Homo sapiens: one gene and its partners. The protein of the gene in region 1 interacts with the protein of each later gene in a biochemical or structural test. Each region holds a gene or a part of one and is shown in the gene's direction. Other genes may lie near its edges.

Region 1 (7,411 bases):
GAAACCTGAGTTCTAATTCTGAATTCTGTATCTGTCATTAAGGAGTTATGTGACCTTGGGCAAGTGCCTTCCTGTCTCTGAGCCTTAATTTCTTCATCTGTGCAGTGAGGAAGTTGACTGGACAATTTCTAAGGCTCTGACTTGTAGGTGTAGGAAGCAAGCCAGGCTGAGCCACTGCAGGCAGCCTATCCTTTCAGGCCATCCACCCCACACTGCTTTTCCCTGTATCCCCTGGCACAGCAGGAAGGACCCTGACATTTATTCATTCATTCATTTCTGGATGTCTCCATTCAGTAAACAGGTGTTGGGTACCTATTGTGTGCCCAGTACAGAAATGAAACACAGTTTCCTTCCTGCAAGGAGCACAAAGTCTAATGGGGAGAAAAGAACATGAAAAACAACCATTATGAAGAATATAATAAAAGCCATGCATGATCAATCTTGTGCATACACAGTCACTGTGGAATCCTACTATGTGTCATTAGAGTCTTTGACATACAGTAACTGTTCTCCCCAATTACTCACAGGGAACCAAGGCAGAGGGAGAGTGAATGGCTTACTCAAGGTCACCTGCTAGCACTCACAGAGCTAGTCCTAGAATTCAGATCTTTCCCACTCAAAATCTATGGGGAATATTTGTGGGTAGGAAGTTAGTTTGGGGCAAAGCCTCGATGTCTGATTTTGGGGGATAGGGTACAAACACACTGATCTGCCCAGGATGTTCCTTCCCCTTGTTGGGGACAGGAGAGCCACTGCTCCCACCCCTCTAGTCCCACTCCTGGCCCTGCCTTCATTTTACTACTCTTCCCTTTCCAGGTGAGGTGAAGGTGGCTCTCTGTCCACCTATTGCTTAGAGCTATCCAGCCTGCATGGTCCTCTCCAGGTTGATGGGTCCATTCTCCCTGCCCAGAGGAAGGCGGCTGTCCAGAAGAGGCGGGGGTCTGGTTCACTCCCTTGGCAGAGGCAGAATCTCACTTGGTGGTTCATTCCAGCATCTCCTGCCCATGCTTTTTGGGAAGCTGGCCTCACAGCTAACTCCAGCCCCTCTTGTTCCAGTTTCAACCCCTTCCCCCACAGAGAGCAGAGCCCCTAACCTTGGCCTTTCCAAACCCACAGAGGATCCTTTCGTGCTCCCCATTTAGGCACCATAATCTTCCTCTTGACACCCACCCCCACTGCCTTCCTGTCTCCACTTCAAAGGGCTTTGGAGGAGGGACAGTTTAGCTCTTTTTGGCCAATGCTAGAGCTCCCAAGAGACAAAAGGCTACCCCTGCCTTCTCCATTCACACACAGTACCCTTCCCTGGAAGCTACAAGAAAGGGGGGTGAAGGAGGGGGCGGTGGAAGGAGCCAGCTGACCGGCTGGTCACCATGGAAACCAGGCCTGTTTCCTGAAGATGAGCCTAGCTGGGGTGGGTGGAGGTGGGGAGTGGGGGCACAAAGGGAACCAGAAAACAACAGAGAGAAAGACGAGGGGCCCAGCCTCAGAGAAGACTGGAGCTGAGGAGGCGAGGTCAGGTCCCTAGCCATGCTGTGGCCTAAGTCAAAGTCCCCAGGTCACCCTTTCAGATAACACTGCAATGGTCCCCCTCCCCATTCCTGGAGTGTTGGAAAGGATTCCTGTCAAGAGTGCAAGCTCTGGTAGTGGGGCCAGTGGGTGACTCAATGCTGACCTCATGTGGCCATAAAAGGGACTGCCACACACCTGTTACGGCTCAGAGCCAAACACCTGGCTGGGTTAAGTGGGTTTTTCCTAAAATTCAGCCTCTGTATGAATAAAAAGGAGGTCCTTGCACACTCCTGAGTTCTTACATCCTTGCAGAGGGCTCAGACACTCCCACCCTATGTGGTTTACCTCTTGATAAAGAAAAGAAGGTTCCACTAAAAAATATGTAAAAGTTTTGGATTAGATGAGAAGCCATCTCTGCACTTTCTATTTTAACTTGAGCAAGTCAACTCACCTCTCTGGGCCTCAGTTTCCCAACATTAAAATGGGGATGATAGTGTCAGATTTCGTGTGGATTTTTTTGTTTTTGTTTTTGTTTTTAGACTGAGTCTCACTCTGTTGCCCAGGCTGGAGTGCAGTGGTGTGATCTCAGCTCACTGCAACCTCCACCCTCAAGTGATTCTCCTGCCTCAGCCTCCCAAGTAGCTGGGATTAATTACAGGCATGTGCCACCAGGCCCAGCTACTTTTTGTATTTTTAGTAGAGATGAGGTTTCGCCATGTTGGCCAGGCCAGTCTTGAACTCCTGACCTCAAATGATCCACCCACCTCAGCCTCTCAAAGTTTATAGGCGTGATTACAGGCGTGAGCCACCGCGCTCGGCCAAATTTTGAACCCAGTTGGTCTGGGTCTGGAGTTTATTACTATACTTTTGCTGCAGCCTTTGAGGACCGGAGAGGAACATGTCAGGGGAGGAGACTGAGAACATCTGAAATCATGCTGACTCAAGGGAAGGAGATGCTTCAATTTCCCAGGCCTTTCCCCTCGTGGCTCCTCACTGGGCTTCATGCTCATTACGTCTTTCCCACTCTGGTCCTACATGGGGTTGAAGAACAGTGGGCCATCTTCTCCCCTCAGCCCTCCCCCAACTCTTCTGCCTCCAATCGCCCCCCACAGACTAGGTCCTTCTCCTCTCCCTATCTCTCTTCCCTTCCCATTCTCAGTTCAAATGGAAGCTTCCTTGCCTCTCACCCCACTGAGTAGCTGGCCCCACTGTGTGCCCCCACAACACCCTGTTCTCACTTCTGTCTTATCCCAACCACTCTGAGCTGTAATTGCCAAGGAGCTTTTTTAGGACCATGGGATTTTTTTGTTGGTCATGGGGGGTGGTTATTGGTTATTACTGTGATAGTCAGTTTTGCTTCCAGTAGAAAGAACAACGTCAGACATTACAGGAGACCTTCCATACATGTTTGTCAAGTAGGTGAATGATGGATGAATAAAATGAGGTTGCAGGGGAAGGGCTGTGGGAAAGCTGGCCTCCCCCCTGCAAAACGTTGCTGTCTACACTCATCCACCTTCCTTTCTCCAATGCTGGAGATGGAAAAGCTACATGTTCCCTTGCGGATAACCCTCTAAGGGCATTGCTGGCGTTAGGCTGATAGCACTTGGAATAGTGGGGAGGAATGAGGGAATAAATCATGGAGCATGGGCTTAGGGCTCACTTGTAGTAGGGTGCTCCCACGGCCTTCCTAGGCCCAGGGACAGTGAAAGAGGAAAGATGTTTTGGGACTAAGATTGGGGCTGTGTTGGGGACCTGAGCAGAGTGCAACCCAGCATGTCTGGGGCCTCCCCAACCTGACCCCACTTCCTTGACTGCTGGGGTTGACCAGAAACTGTAACTACCCAAGGCCAGGGTTTCACCCTTTGAGGAAGAAGAAACTCCACAACCACTTTACTTTTTAGACAACAGTTTCCCTGAGAAGACGCTCTTTCCAAAAAAACATTTTCATGCCCAATTCCATGTGATGTGGGACGTTGACACAGGAGACTGTCTTCCAGGACCCAGGAGAACTGCTCCTTTAAAGATAATGGGAGTCCCCTTTCCCTACCCGTACCCCTGGGCACTGATAGGGAAAGATGAGAAAGCAAGAGAAATTGAGATAAATGGGCAGGGGATAGGAAGCAGTGCTTCCCCATCCCATCGCCTACATGCCCTCCCCCAAAGATGCCAGCTTGTACGGACAATTAATAGATATTTCTTTTAAAACAAATGAATGATCCGGGACCGGTGGCTCACAGCCTGTAATCCCAGCACTTTGGTAGTCCGAGGCAGGCAGATCGCTTGAACCCAGGAGTTCGAGACCAGCCTGGGCAACGTAGCGAGACCCCCGTCTCTACTTGTAGTCCCAGCTACTCGAAAGGCTGAGGCAGGAGAATCGCTTGAACCCAGGAGGCGGAGGTTGCAGTGAGCAGAGATCAACCACTGCACTCCAGCCTGGGCAACAGAGCAAGACTTCGTCTCAAAAAAATAAAAAATAAAAATAAAACAAATGAATTAAGAAATAGAAGTGAAAGAAGGAAACAGTACATGCGTGGAACTAATGAATGGAGTGAAGGAGGAAGGGGGAAAGAGTGAATGAATGAATGAATGAATGAGTGAATGAATCAACGAAGGAGTGAGTCAAGGCCCGGGAACCACAGACTCCAAGCCTACGCAGAGCCCGGGAAGGGGGATTCCGGAGGGGCGGGGCCTCTTTCCGGAAGCGCCCGCCGGGGGCGGGGAGGGGGCGGGGCCATCCGCGTGAGGCGACCCTGTTGGTCCGGAGGGGCGGGGCGAGGAGGAGGACCCGCTTGGGCGGTTCGGCTGCCCACAGTAACCGCTGGGTGGACCTGGCCAGCGCTCCGAACCTTGTCCTCGCTGCGCGCCGGCCCCTCGGAGCCCCACAGCCCGGGAAGGAGGCCGCCGCGGGCCGGGCGCCCGCTCTGCCAAGCGGACCCGCAACCCGGAAAGGCGGCGCGGCGGAGCCTGGAGCCGGATCCTGCTCAGACCGGGCCCCGGCCGGCCAGAGCCGCGGGCATGTCGGAGGCGCGGAAGGGGCCGGACGAGGCGGAGGAGAGCCAGTACGACTCTGGCATTGAGTCTCTGCGCTCTCTGCGCTCCCTACCCGAGTCCACCTCGGCTCCAGCCTCCGGGCCCTCGGACGGCAGCCCCCAGCCCTGCACCCATCCTCCGGGACCCGTCAAGGAACCACAGGAGAAGGAAGACGCGGATGGGGAGCGGGCTGATTCCACCTATGGCTCCTCCTCGCTCACCTACACCCTGTCCTTGCTGGGGGGCCCCGAGGCTGAGGACCCGGCCCCACGCCTGCCACTCCCCCACGTGGGGGCGCTGAGCCCTCAGCAGCTGGAAGCACTCACTTACATCTCCGAGGACGGAGACACGTGAGTATGGGGGCTAGGCTGAATCGGGATGCTAACTCTGGGCCTGCCCAAGAGCCGCAACAGGTCGGGCACCCCCACTCCCCCGTGAAGATCCTTCAAGTCCCCATTCGCTCTTCCAAACTCCAGACTTAACTCTCAGCCCACTTTTGAGGTCCAGCTAGGCCATGGAATCATCTCTGTCCTCCCATTTCGGGGTGGGCAGAGCTGGCAGGACCCTTAACCCAGCCAGCATCTTGGAAATCTACCAATAATCCACCCTTAGGAAGAGAAAATTCCCCTGACCAAGTCCAGTTTTTTTGTTTCTTCTTGCTGGGGAAGGGGACATCCTTATTTGCTCAATATCTGGGATTCCCAGTTCCTGACCTCAGAATGCTCTGTCTCAAGGAACAACAGGTGCCAGTTACAGGTTGCCAGTCGGGGCCAGGAAGCTAGGCATGGGGGGTGCCACCAGGGTGTAGGTTTGGGACTGGTCCTCAGGAGGATGGGGTGAGCCAGGCTGGGGCACTCTTGCCCCAGCAGACAGACAGGCGGCTGGCTGCCCCAGCTTACTTCCTCCTCTGCTAAGAAAGGGGAAGTGAGGGCTAGAGTCAGCGTCCCTGACATCCTCTACCTCCAGAGCCCCCAGTCCCACTAACTGTCGTGTCTCACTCCCTCACTTAACCCTTCCTCCTCCAGACCCAGATGGAGTTTGGTGGGAGTGGGCCAGAGGGCAGTTGAAGTAAAAGGCAGTTGTGTGGGATGGGTTGGCCAGTTGAGGATTTAGCCCCCCAGGAAGAAGAAAACATTGACAGAGGAGGGAAAGGTTGGGAACTGGGGATGAGAAATAGAGTTGGGGAGGGCTGGAATCCCTGGTCAAGGGTGCTCATATAAATAGGAGTAGGGGAGGCAGGAGGTGGCTGTCCTAACCTGCTTTTTGGAGATGCAGGGTCCTAATCCTGGGTGGCCATTGATAAAGACAGCTGGTGGACCCAGTGGGTGGGAGAGGAGTGACCCAGTCCTTTCTGTACTCTGCCTGGATCACCAGCCCTCAGGCCCAGAACCCCAAGGTTTTGGGGGCTGCACGCAAGATACCTCTGATGACCTTTGATCCAAGGAGAGGGGACTTTTGACATTGCCGTCTTTTGTTAGCCTCTCAGCCCCAGCCTTTTCCATCTCTAGTTAGAAGCAGGTGTTGTGTCCAGATTGGGTGTGTGTGTGGAGGGGAGAAATGTCCGGGCTCCCCAGCGAGTCCCCAGAGAGCAGGGGGCACTTTCCTCCCTCTGTTGGAGGTGTCTGGGCTGTGGGAGGTATGGAAGTGGGAAGAGGAAGTGGGAGGAGGGGATACTGGGGGAGAGAGGGAGGTGGCTGCAAGAATGTGACCCAGAGAGCAGGCCCTGGCCTAGGGGATTTCCAGAGCAGTTCCTCCCTCCCTCCGTCACTCTCCTGGGCCTCTCCTGCTGCCTGCTGCTAAAGCCTGCCACCCTCCTGCCCAAGCAGCCCCCTCCCCAGCCCAGACGGGCCTTTTAGCCAATCTACCCCCCTCACTAATGCCCCAAGGCAGCTGTCCCGGCCTAGACCCTCCATCACTGGCTTTCGTTTTCCCCACCTGACGTGGGGAAACCCCAAGACTGGAACTTCCCCTCCCAACTGCCCCCATTACCCCTAGATTAAGGTTCTTGGCCCCCTCAACAAATACATTTTCTGCACTACAAAGACCTCCTCTTGGAGGTGCACACAGGAATGGAGGGCCTCTGTTAGGCCCGACCTGGTCTGTGCTATCTGAGAGGTGCCTCTTGACTCCCAGGGAAGGGCAGCAGGACAGGATGCTGCACTGTCTCCTTGCTCCTCTTCCAAGAGTTTCTGTGTCTCTCCCTTGGAATGTGTAACACTGAGTTGCTTGGGGGTACGGGGTGACCCTGCAACTGTCTCCTTCTTTCCTGTGTGCTGGGGTGGTGGGGTGCTTAGCCCTGGAAACCCCCTCTGGACTACTTCGGCAGCTTTCAATTTGGCTTTGAGCTGCAGCTGGCTCGGCAGAGCCCTGAGGGCAAAGAGGAGTGGGTGTGGGCAGGCTGGACAGGAAGGCTGTTGTCCTGTCAGCACCCTGCCCACATGCCCACCCAGCCAAGGCCCTCCTGAAGGCCAGCAGTGGGAACTTGGAGCTCCAACCCTAGGATCCTGGCTTCCCACACCAACCCTCACTTCCTGGCCCACACTCTCACTTCCTGGACCTACCCTATGGGTAGCTAGTTAAAGTTTGATGTGTTCCTTCTAACTCCAAGACCCCAACCCACTCCCTCTGGCCTGGGCCCTTAACTCTAAGCCCCGCCTCTGCTCCCCTAGGCTGGTCCACCTGGCAGTGATTCATGAGGCCCCAGCGGTGCTGCTCTGTTGCCTGGCTTTGCTGCCCCAGGAGGTCCTGGACATTCAAAATAACCTTTACCAGGTTGGTGGCGAGAGAATGTTATGCCCAGATACCTGTTTGTGCCCTGGCAGCCATTCCCAGCAGCCATACCAGTCCAAAGGCTGCTCACTTAGGAAACCAT
Region 2 (4,432 bases), on another chromosome or scaffold:
CCCTGAGGCATGACACAATAACTGGGCTCAATCTCATTTTCCTCTGCCCCCAGACAAGGAAGAGGTGCAGCGGAAGCGGAGGAAGGCCTTGCCCACCTTCTCCCAGCCCTTCGGGGGTGGCTCCCACATGGGTGGAGGCTCTGGGGGTGCAGCCGGGGGCTACGGAGGAGCTGGAGGAGGTGAGGGGGTACTGATGGAGGGAGGGGTAAAGGTAAGAGAAGCTGTGGAGGAAAAAAATCTGGGGGAGGCCGGGCGTGGTGGCTCACGCCTGTAATCCAGCCCTTTGGGAGGCCAAGGCAGGCAGATTACCTGAGATCAGGAGTTCAAGACCAGCTTGGCCAACAGCGTGAAACCTCGTCTCTACTAAAAATACAAACATTAGCTGGGCATGGTGGCAGGCGCCTGTAATCCCAGCTACTCGGGAGGCTGAGGCAGGAGAATCGCTTGAACCCTGGGAGACAAGAGGTTGCAGTAAGCTGAGATCACACCACTGCACTCCAGGCTGGGCAATAAGAGCGAAACTCCGTCTCAAAAAAAAAAAAAAAAAATCTGGGAGAGTCATGGCTGGTGCCCGCTTCCCACAGCCCTGCCTGTATCCACAGGTGGCAGCCTCGGTTTCTTCCCCTCCTCCCTGGCCTACAGCCCCTACCAGTCCGGCGCGGGCCCCATGGGCTGCTACCCGGGAGGCGGGGGCGGGGCGCAGATGGCCGCCACGGTGCCCAGCAGGGACTCCGGGGAGGAAGCCGCGGAGCCAAGCGCCCCCTCCAGGACCCCCCAGTGCGAGCCGCAGGCCCCGGAGATGCTGCAGCGAGGTATGGACTCCGGGGCACGGGCGGTCGGGGCGCCGGGGCTGAGGACCTAGCCCTGACCCACGCCCTCTGTGGCCCGTAGCTCGAGAGTACAACGCGCGCCTGTTCGGCCTGGCGCAGCGCAGCGCCCGAGCCCTACTCGACTACGGCGTCACCGCGGACGCGCGCGCGCTGCTGGCGGGACAGCGCCACCTGCTGACGGCGCAGGACGAGAACGGAGACACGTAGGCAACAGAGGGCCTGGCGGACGAGGCGCGGGGTGGGGGCAGGAAAGGGACCGGCACGGAGGCGGGCTCTGCAGTTTTCGGACACGCCAGGCTTCAAGTCCGGCCTCGGTGTTCACAAGCTCTGTTCAAGCTGCTTGGTCTCTCCAAACTTCAGTTTGGTCGACCGTGCAAGGGGTACAGTCATAGCACTTACCTACCTCAAAAGGTGCTGCGAAACGTTAAGTGCAGGCACAGCGATGCCCTGGGCCACGTGCTGGGTTCCATGGGCCCCAGCGAGGGAGACTATGAGGGCGGTGGGGCCTTGAAAGCGAAGGATGCTCTGAGTGGCTGGGCCAGACTCTCGCTCCCCAACCCCCAGACCACTGCACCTAGCCATCATCCACGGGCAGACCAGTGTCATTGAGCAGATAGTCTATGTCATCCACCACGCCCAGGACCTCGGCGTTGTCAACCTCACCAACCACCTGCACCAGGTGCGGGGGCGCCTACTGGGGAGGTGGGAGGGGTTGGAAGGCAAGTGGGTCTCGGGCCTGGCTCACCCTGCTTTCATCCCCAGACGCCCCTGCACCTGGCGGTGATCACGGGGCAGACGAGTGTGGTGAGCTTTCTGCTGCGGGTAGGTGCAGACCCAGCTCTGCTGGATCGGCATGGAGACTCAGCCATGCATCTGGCGCTGCGGGCAGGCGCTGGTGCTCCTGAGCTGCTGCGTGCACTGCTTCAGAGTGGAGCTCCTGCTGTGCCCCAGCTGTTGCATATGCCTGACTTTGAGGGTGAGCTCCCCATCTCACCTGACTAAGGGGGCAGGCGGGGACCAGGGAGGGTATCTGGCCAGTGCCCAGAATGGACTATGAGGTGTCGAGATTGAATGGTCAGGGCTGGTCCAGGGGCTGCCTTAAGGGTCACAGCTGCAGGTTGAGCATCCTGCATCCTTAGGACTGTATCCAGTACACCTGGCAGTCCGAGCCCGAAGCCCTGAGTGCCTGGATCTGCTGGTGGACAGTGGGGCTGAAGTGGAGGCCACAGAGCGGCAGGGGGGACGAACAGCCTTGCATCTAGCCACAGAGATGGAGGAGCTGGGGTTGGTCACCCATCTGGTCACCAAGGTGGGACTGAGGATTGTGGAAGGAGTGGGGCCAAGGGTGGTGGAGGGGCCAAAGATGGTGAAGGGGGGGGCTGGCCAAGGGGACCATGCTGTGGTGTCAACTCTCGCTGCTCGCACCCCCAGCTCCGGGCCAACGTGAACGCTCGCACCTTTGCGGGAAACACACCCCTGCACCTGGCAGCTGGACTGGGGTACCCGACCCTCACCCGCCTCCTTCTGAAGGCTGGTCAGTCTCACCCTCAGGGGCACTTGAACAGGGTGGGGGGAAGGGAGAGAGGTGCCTCCCAGTCCCCCGACTTTGCAGTCCTTAATGTAGGCCCCCACCATACCGCCCCATGACGGCCTCCCTCTCCCAGGTGCTGACATCCATGCTGAAAACGAGGAGCCCCTGTGCCCACTGCCTTCACCCCCTACCTCTGATAGCGACTCGGACTCTGAAGGGCCTGAGAAGGACACCCGAAGCAGCTTCCGGGGCCACACGCCTCTTGACCTCACTTGCAGCACCAAGGTGAGGCCAGCCCGGGACTAGAAGTGCTCTGAGTGACGGGGTCCAGAGTATCTGGACTTAAAGACACAGGCTTAAGGACGAGGTGGGAGGTAGTCAGAACTGCGGCTGTCTCCCCAGGTGAAGACCTTGCTGCTAAATGCTGCTCAGAACACCATGGAGCCACCCCTGACCCCGCCCAGCCCAGCAGGTGAGAAGCATCAGGCATCCCCAGCCCGACTCCTCTGACTCCTCACAGAGGTCTCTTCTCCTTCAGGACCTCTGAAGGAGGCCTCCCTTTCTCTACCCTCAGCCCCGTCCATCACCCCTCATGGTCCTGTCTGTCGCTTACCTTGGGAGAAAGGCAGTGTTCAGGTGTCCATGTCCCCACCCAACTCTGGAGGTAAATGACATGTCTGTATGTGTGTCCCCCTAAGGGCCGGGACTGTCACTTGGTGATACAGCTCTGCAGAACCTGGAGCAGCTGCTAGACGGGCCAGAAGCCCAGGGCAGCTGGGCAGAGCTGGCAGAGCGTCTGGGGCTGCGCAGCCTGGTAGACACGTACCGACAGACAACCTCACCCAGTGGCAGCCTCCTGCGCAGCTACGAGGTGGGTTGGCCTGTGCCCTGCCCCCTCCCCAGCCTCCTTTCCCGATCTGAGTCCAGGTGCCTCCTTGGCCCCAGGGCTCCCGAGCACATGCCCTAACCATGACTCAGACCTCATTCCTCTGTCTTCTCAGCTGGCTGGCGGGGACCTGGCAGGTCTACTGGAGGCCCTGTCTGACATGGGCCTAGAGGAGGGAGTGAGGCTGCTGAGGGGTCCAGAAACCCGAGACAAGCTGCCCAGCACAGGTAAAGGGGCCTCCCTGGAAGGTGGATCTGGACCTGGAGGGCCGGAGGCCTGAGGCTTTGACTATCCCATTCCTGTCCCCATTTACCCCCAGCAGAGGTGAAGGAAGACAGTGCGTACGGGAGCCAGTCAGTGGAGCAGGAGGCAGAGAAGCTGGGCCCACCCCCTGAGCCACCAGGAGGGCTCTGCCACGGGCACCCCCAGCCTCAGGTGCACTGACCTGCTGCCTGCCCCCAGCCCCCTTCCCGGACCCCCTGTACAGCGTCCCCACCTATTTCAAATCTTATTTAACACCCCACACCCACCCCTCAGTTGGGACAAATAAAGGATTCTCATGGGAAGGGGAGGACCCCTCCTTCCCAACTTATGGCAGCCCCTGATGTGACTCTTGTCCCTGGAACCAGCTACCCACCCTGCCCACATGCCAGGCATGGTGAGAAGAGAAGGAGGAGGCCCAGCCAGCAAGTCCAGAGCAGTTTTAATGGGGGTGGAGGCTGTACAAAGGGCAAGGCCCACTGAAGCGGGGGAAAGCCAGGCCGTGCTGCCCCCGGCCCAGGTATGGGGCCTTGGCATGGACGCCCTTCCTCCACCTCCAGCAAGAGAAAGAGTAAGCCCTTGGGGAGGAAGGAGGGGAAACCAGCTCAGCCCCAAATCCTGGTCTCTGTCCAAGCCAGGCCCCAGGACAGAGGGGGACTGATGGTGTCAGGGTGGGGGTGGTCTCAGCAGAAAGCAGAAACGGCATCAGGCCTCTCCCACACAAAAAAAAAGCATCAAAAGTTCAGGGGCGCTAGCCCCTCCCGCCCCCGCCCACCCTGTACGAAAAAGTGCAAAACATTATCACAAAAAGGGGCTCTCGGAGGTGCCCCTAGCCTAGGCTCCTGAGGCCCAGGCCCCAGCCCTGCCCTGCCCCGGACACCGCGTCCGGCGCGGTCGGGCCCTAGGCCGGGAGGCCCTCGTGGG
Region 3 (7,112 bases), on another chromosome or scaffold:
GAGTCCCCCACCTGGCCTCCCAGAATATGGCTCCTGGGAGGCAGAGGTGGGCTTGTGGCAGTGTCAGCCCTGACCCCAGTGGGCTCAGCTGCAGATGTGTGCTGCTGTGCGCGTATCTGAACCTCGGTTACCTTCTCTCCAGCCTCTGAACCCAACTTGAAAGTGCGTTCAAGGCTAAAACAGAAGGTGGCTGAGCGGAGAAGCAGTCCCCTCCTGCGTCGCAAGGATGGGACTGTTATTAGCACCTTTAAGAAGAGAGCTGTTGAGATCACAGGTGCCGGGCCTGGGGGTAAGGGCTGCTCTCATGTACCTGTTCTGAGGGTCTGGGAATCAGGGGTCGGGGGTAGTTCACAGCAGGCCCAGGTGACAGCCACTTCTCCTATAGCGTCGTCCGTGTGTAACAGCGCACCCGGCTCCGGCCCCAGCTCTCCCAACAGCTCCCACAGCACCATCGCTGAGAATGGCTTTACTGGCTCAGTCCCCAACATCCCCACTGAGGTACAGGCCTGGCTGGGGGCTGGTGGGGCGGGGACAGAGTTGCTCCTTCCCATGGAAGAAAGAGTGCAGCTCCTTCCAGTCTGTCTGCCTGAGTGCCCAGCAGAGACCTCTCTGCCCACATGAATAGGCTGGAGGATCCTTGCTTGGACTTAATTGCATTGAAGGGGAATTTGTCCCACAGGACTATGAAGAGCCCTGATGGCTCAGTCTCCCTCAGTGGGAGCTCAGGGTAGAGGGAACTGGGCACCATTCAGAGACCTTGGCCTTGGCCCCAGGTTGCCCTCCCTTGTTGCCTCCCCTTTGTGCACTCTCATGCCTGTCTCTTCTGACTGCTCCCCAGATGCTCCCTCAGCACCGAGCCCTCCCTCTGGACAGCTCCCCCAACCAGTTCAGCCTCTACACGTCTCCTTCTCTGCCCAACATCTCCCTAGGGCTGCAGGCCACGGTCACTGTCACCAACTCACACCTCACTGTAAGTACAGGGCATATACCCCATCTTCCCTCTGGTGTTGAGGTCACAGGTCCTGCATGCCCCCAGCTGGGGTTTTCCCCTTCCAAGGCCCTAAGGGAGATCTGTTGGCCCTACCCAGAGCTTGGGGGGTAGATAGTGGGTAGATGGGGATGCTAGTCCAAAGTTGGCAGGACTGAGGCTGTATAAGCCCCTCCCTTCACCCCCCAGGCCTCCCCGAAGCTGTCGACACAGCAGGAGGCCGAGAGGCAGGCCCTCCAGTCCCTGCGGCAGGGTGGCACGCTGACCGGCAAGTTCATGAGCACATCCTCTATTCCTGGCTGCCTGCTGGGCGTGGCACTGGAGGGCGACGGGAGCCCCCACGGGCATGCCTCCCTGCTGCAGCATGTGCTGTTGCTGGAGCAGGCCCGGCAGCAGAGCACCCTCATTGCTGGTGAGTGGACAGGTAGCTGTGCAAGGGAGGGGGCTAAGGTCAGGACCAACTGTCAGGGATACTCTCCAACCCTGTCACAGTTCCCCTTAGCAGAATCAACAGCATCAGTGATTTCTTCCACATTCTGGAAACATGGGATACCTACAGGATGCCAGGCACTGTTCTTGACAAAATCTGCTGCCATCTTGGCGTTCACATCCCAGAGCAGTGTTGTTCAGTAGAAACATAACACAATCTACATACGTAATTTCTAGCATCCACATTAAAAAATGTAAAAAGAAGGCCGGGCGCGGTGGATCACGCCTGAAATCCCAGCACTTTGGGAGGCTGAGGCGGGTGGATCACGAGGTCAGGAGATTGAGACCATTCTGGCTAACATGGTGAAACCCCGTCTCTACTAAAAATACAAAAAATTAGCCGGGCGTGGTGGTGGGCACCTGTAGTCCCAGCTACTCAGGAGGCTGAGGCAGGAGAACAGTGTGAACCTGGGAGGCGGAGCTTGCAGTGAGCCGAGATCGTGCCACTGCACTCCAGCCTGGGGCACAGAGCGTGAGACTCCGTCTCAAAAAAATAAAAAAATTAAAAGAAGCAAGTGGAGCCACACATGGTGGCTCAAGCCTGTGAGCCCGGCACTTTGGAGGCCAAGGCAGGTGGATCACTTGAGGTCAGGAGCTTGAGACCAGCCTGGCCAACATGGTGAAATCCCATCTCTACTAAAAATACAAAAATTAGCTGGGCGTGGTGGCGGGCACCTGTAATCCCAGCTACTCGGGAGGCTGAGGCAGGAAAATTGCTTGAACCCAGGAGGCGGAGGTTGCAGTGAGCCGAGATCGCTCCATTGCACCCAAGCCTGGGCAACAGAGCGACACTCTGTCTCAAAAAAAAGAGAAGCAAGTGGAATTAATTTCACCACATATATTTAACTCATTATATCCAGAATATTACAATTTCGGTAATACATATGCAGTTATTCTTTCTATTTTTTAATTTTTGTAGAGACAGGATCTTGCTATGTTACCCAGGCTGGTCTTTTTTTCGAGACTGAGTCTCGCTCTGTTGCCCAAGCTAGAGTGCAGTGGCGTGATCTTGGCTCACTGCAACCTCTGCCTCCCGGGTTCAAGCAATTCTCCTGCCTCAGCCTCCCAAGTAGTTGGGATTATAGGCGCCTGCCACCGCGCCTGGCTAATTTTTGTATTTTTAATAGAGCTGGGGTTTCACCATCTTGGCCAGGCTGGTCTTGAACTCCTGACCTCAGGTGATCCGTTCGCCTCGGCCTCCCAAAGTGCTGGGATTACAGGTGTGAGCCGCCATGCTCATCCTTTTTTTTTTTTTTTTTTTGAGACAGAATCTCACTTTGTTGCCCAGGCTGGAGTGCAGTAAGCAGGATCTCTGCTCACTGCACCCTCCACCTCCTGGGTTCAAGCTTCAAGCGGTTCTTTTGCTTCAGCCTCCTGAGTAGTTAAGACTACAGGCGTGTGCCACCACACCCAGCTAATTTTTTTTTTTTTTTTTTTTTTTTTTTGAGACGAAGTTTCACTCTTGTTGCCCAGGCTGGAGTGCAGTGGCAAGATCTCGGCTCACTGCAACCTCTGCCTCTCGAGTTCAAGTGATTCTCCTGCCTAAGCCTCCCAAGTAGCTGGGATTACAGGCATGTGCCACCATGCCTGGCTTAATTTTTTGTATTTTTATTAGAGAAGAAGTTTCACCACGTTGGCCAGGCTGGTCTTGAACTCCTGACCTCAGATGGTCCACCCGCCTTGGCCTCCCAAAGTGTTGGAATTACAGGCGTGAGCCACTGCGCCTGGCCTAATTTTTGTATTTTTAGTAGAGACGGGGTTTCACCATGTTGGCCAAGTTGGTCTTGAACTCCTGACCTCAAGTGATCCACCTGCCTTGGCCTCCCAAAGCGCTGGGATTACGGGTGTGAGCCACCGCACCCAGCTGCCCAGGTTGGTCTTGAACTCCTGGGCTCAAGCCATCCCCCTGCCTTGGACTCCCAAAGTGCTGGGATTACAGGTGTGAGCCACTGTGCCTGGCCAATATGCAGTTACCAATGAGATATTTTGGTTTTTGTTTCATACTCTTTGAAATCTAGTGTATACTTCACACTTATATCACATTTCAGTTTAGACAGGTTGTGTGCAAGGGCTCAGCAGTCACATGTAACTAGTAGCTATGGGACTAGACAGCACAACTTTAGACAGCCCTTAAGTACCAGGGCTGTCTAAAGAGCCCTGGCACCAGAAGAGGTTCTGCTTGAAAGATACATGATCCTGGCCCTAGGGCTTCCTAGCCTGGCGGGATCCACGGGGAGGATCCATGATCAGGGAGGCCTTGTTGCACTTAGGGAGAAAAGTCATTGTTCGTTCAGAGGGCTCAAGACTAAATGTATACTCAGTTTATTCAGTTAAGGAAATCGAAGGGAAAAGATGGTGAATCCAGGAAGGCTTGCTGGAGGTGGTACCTTAGAGCTGTGAAACTCTTCATTCATGGGGAAGAGGAAGAATGGAGCTCAGGTTTGGGTGGGGGGTGCTTCAGGTCCCCCAGGGTTTTTCCTGAGTATATAGGTGGTGATATGCCAGAGGGGGTTGTGGGGGCAAGATGCAGGGTCGGTGGGAGGGCAGTCAGGTGCCCTGACAATGGTGCTTAGTCATCACCCCCAACTCCGTAGTGCCACTCCACGGGCAGTCCCCACTAGTGACGGGTGAACGTGTGGCCACCAGCATGCGGACGGTAGGCAAGCTCCCGCGGCATCGGCCCCTGAGCCGCACTCAGTCCTCACCGCTGCCGCAGAGTCCCCAGGCCCTGCAGCAGCTGGTCATGCAACAACAGCACCAGCAGTTCCTGGAGAAGCAGAAGCAGCAGCAGCTACAGCTGGGCAAGGTGAGCCTGGAAAGGTGAATGGCCTGGGGCTGTGGTGGGGGCAGGACACAGGAGAGTACCAGGCTGGCAGAAAAGTCCTCCTTTCAGGCCAGACACGGTGGCTCGCGCCTGATTGGGAGGCCGAGGTGGGCAGATCGCCTGAGGTCAGGAGTTCGAGACCAGCCTGGCCAACATGGTGAAACCCCCGTCTCTACTAAAAATACAAAAATTAGCCAGGCGTGGTGGTAGGCACCTATAATAATCCCAGCTACTCGGGAGGCTGAGGCAGGAGAATTGCTTGAACCTGGGAGATGGAGGTTGCACTGAGCCCAGATCGCACCATTGCACTGCAGCCTGGGTGAGAAGAGCGAGACCGTCTCAAAAAAACAAACAAAAATTAGCTGGGCGTGGTGGCGTGCGCCTGTAACCCCAGTCACTGGGGAGGCTGAGGCAGGAGAATCGCTTGAATTTGGAAGGCGGAGGTTGCAGTGAGCCGAGATCGTGCCACTGCATGCCAGGCTGGGCGACAGAGGGAGACTCTGTCTCAAAAAAAAAAAAAGTCCTCTCAGAGGAGCTACCTCACCTTTTTCTAATTCACATAGAAGCTCTACCTGGAAGAAGGGAGGGAGGGAAGGATAGACTGTTCTGGGTTTTAGGCTGCACAGCTGCTCCCCAACTCCCAGCTGATGTGCCCCCATATTCTGTTATCAGATCCTCACCAAGACAGGGGAGCTGCCCAGGCAGCCCACCACCCACCCTGAGGAGACAGAGGAGGAGCTGACGGAGCAGCAGGAGGTCTTGCTGGGGGAGGGAGCCCTGACCATGCCCCGGGAGGGCTCCACAGAGAGTGAGAGCACACAGGAAGACCTGGAGGAGGAGGACGAGGAAGACGATGGGGAGGAGGAGGAGGATTGCATCCAGGTTAAGGACGAGGAGGGCGAGAGTGGTGCTGAGGAGGGGCCCGACTTGGAGGAGCCTGGTGCTGGATACAAAAAAGTGAGCCCCGTCCCTGGTCCCAGTCCTTGGTCACCACCCCTCTGTCCTTCTCCACCCCTGCCTCTGCCCTTGTCTTTCCCTCTCCCCCATCTGCAGTTTCCAGGCTGTGCAGGAGCAGCTTTCTGTAGAGAGCAAAAGGGGAGTGGGAAGGAGGCCGGTGGGGAGAAGGGGGAGCTGTTTGTGTTGATCTCAGAGTTGTGTCTGTCCTAGGCTGCCAGTTCCCTCCCTGTGTCTGTGATACTGGCCTGCCTCTCTGCTTGTGTGTCTGTGTATGCATGCGTCGGTCCCTGTGCGTGCCTGTGCGTGTGTGTACACACACGCCCCCGCTGTTACTACTGTCTGCCTCGCGCCTAGCTGGCACTCCATTCATTGCGGACACAGCCGAGCCCTCCGGGCCTGACTCATCCCGCCCCCACCCCGCCCCCGCCCCCACCCCTCCCAGCCTCTTACCTCAATGCTACTCTTTGATGTGACTCATCACATCTCCCCCATCCCTCCCCATCTCAGAGGAGATGTGTCTCCTGTCCCTGGAGGGAGCAAGTGGGAGGAGGTGGGGGAAGGAGACTTGGAAGAAAAGGGCTGGATTGGGGCCCCACTGGAGGCCCTGACAGGGCCTGCCCTCACCCCTGTCCTGGCTGAGTCTGACCCAGGCCCCCTCCCATTCTCCCCTCCAGCTGTTCTCAGATGCCCAGCCGCTGCAGCCTTTGCAGGTGTACCAGGCGCCCCTCAGCCTGGCCACTGTGCCCCACCAGGCCCTGGGCCGTACCCAGTCCTCCCCTGCTGCCCCTGGGGGCATGAAGAGCCCCCCAGACCAGCCCGTCAAGCACCTCTTCACCACAGGTGAGCCCCCACCAACTGTTAGGTCCTTCTGCCAGGCACCAGAGGGCCTGTGTGTGGTGTCTGCCCCATGGCAGGGGGAAGAGGCTGCTGGGGCCCCTTAGGCACCCTGAAAGGAGGGGACACAGGCCTTCGTTCTCTCCCTGTACCCCAGAGCTGTTCATGGTAGCGGCAGGGCCTTCTGCCTCAGCCGGGAGAGTGGGTAGCGTCTTTCTCACCCCGCTGAAGGAAGGACTGCCCCACAGCCTGAAGTGCTGGGTAGAGAGAGCCTGCTGTCCCTGTTGGGCCCTGACCTTCTACCTTCCCTTCCTTCTCCCTGTGAGGTCTGGGATGAGACCAGAGTCCTCTTCCCTATGAAGCTGCCACAGGCTGGGCTCTGGGGGGACACAGACGTGCCTGAGGGTGGCCCTGTATCACCCGTGGAGAGTAAGACACGGGTTTGGCAGGAGGGGGAAAGCAGGAGGTGCCGTGAGAAGGGTGCAGCTGAGGAGGCACAGCTGGCAGAGATGAGACTCATGCGAGTGTCCAGGGCAGCCTTGCTGGGGCTTGAGGAGCAGGGAAGCTTCTGATAGGCAATAATGGAGCAAAGGAATTTCAGGAGGAGTCAAGAGGGGGCAAAGGCTGGAGAGGAAAGGCCAGGTGCAGTGGCTCACACCTGTAATCCCAGCATTTTGGGAGGCCAAGGTGGGAGGATCACTTGAGCCCAGGAGTTTGAGACCAACGTGAGCAACATAGTGAGACCCCGTCTCTTTAAAATAAAAAATAAAAAAATAGGTTGGGTGCAGTGGCTCACGCCTGTAATCCCAGCACTTTAGGAGGCTGAGGTGGGTGGATTACCTGAGGTCAGGAGTTCGAGACCAGCCTGGCCAACATGGTAAAACCCCGTCTCTACTAAAAATACAAAAATTAGCCAGGCGTGGTGGCACATGCCTGTAATCCCAGCTACTCGGGAGGCTGAGGCAGGAGAATTGCTTGAGCCCAGGAGGCAGAGGTTGCAGTGAGCCGAGATCGTGCCAC

The links.
Region 2: the proteins of NFKBIE (region 1) and NFKB2 form a complex in vitro, tested with the Homo sapiens proteins (one study listed by BioGRID).
Region 3: the proteins of NFKBIE (region 1) and HDAC5 form a complex in vitro, tested with the Homo sapiens proteins (one study listed by BioGRID).

The regions. Positions count from the first base shown.
Region 1 is NC_000006.12:44,262,460-44,269,870, reverse strand, and holds the start of NFKBIE (NF-kappa-B inhibitor epsilon), read left to right. Parts: upstream 1-4,319; 5' UTR 4,320-4,524; coding exon 4,525-4,889; intron 4,890-7,208; coding exon 7,209-7,311; intron 7,312-7,411. UniProt on the Homo sapiens protein: Sequesters NF-kappa-B transcription factor complexes in the cytoplasm, thereby inhibiting their activity. Sequestered complexes include NFKB1-RELA (p50-p65) and NFKB1-REL (p50-c-Rel) complexes.
Region 2 is NC_000010.11:102,398,686-102,403,117, forward strand, and holds the end of NFKB2 (nuclear factor NF-kappa-B p100 subunit), read left to right. Parts: intron 1-53; coding exon 54-179; intron 180-602; coding exon 603-812; intron 813-891; coding exon 892-1,033; intron 1,034-1,394; coding exon 1,395-1,509; intron 1,510-1,592; coding exon 1,593-1,806; intron 1,807-1,969; coding exon 1,970-2,139; intron 2,140-2,261; coding exon 2,262-2,364; intron 2,365-2,494; coding exon 2,495-2,646; intron 2,647-2,763; coding exon 2,764-2,833; intron 2,834-3,059; coding exon 3,060-3,232; intron 3,233-3,362; coding exon 3,363-3,474; intron 3,475-3,566; coding exon 3,567-3,691; 3' UTR 3,692-3,839; downstream 3,840-4,432. UniProt on the Homo sapiens protein: NF-kappa-B is a pleiotropic transcription factor present in almost all cell types and is the endpoint of a series of signal transduction events that are initiated by a vast array of stimuli related to many biological processes such as inflammation, immunity, differentiation, cell growth, tumorigenesis and apoptosis.
Region 3 is NC_000017.11:44,085,558-44,092,669, reverse strand, and holds part of HDAC5 (histone deacetylase 5), read left to right. Parts: intron 1-142; coding exon 143-289; intron 290-385; coding exon 386-498; intron 499-838; coding exon 839-970; intron 971-1,177; coding exon 1,178-1,400; intron 1,401-4,071; coding exon 4,072-4,283; intron 4,284-4,973; coding exon 4,974-5,258; intron 5,259-5,932; coding exon 5,933-6,098; intron 6,099-7,112. UniProt on the Homo sapiens protein: Responsible for the deacetylation of lysine residues on the N-terminal part of the core histones (H2A, H2B, H3 and H4).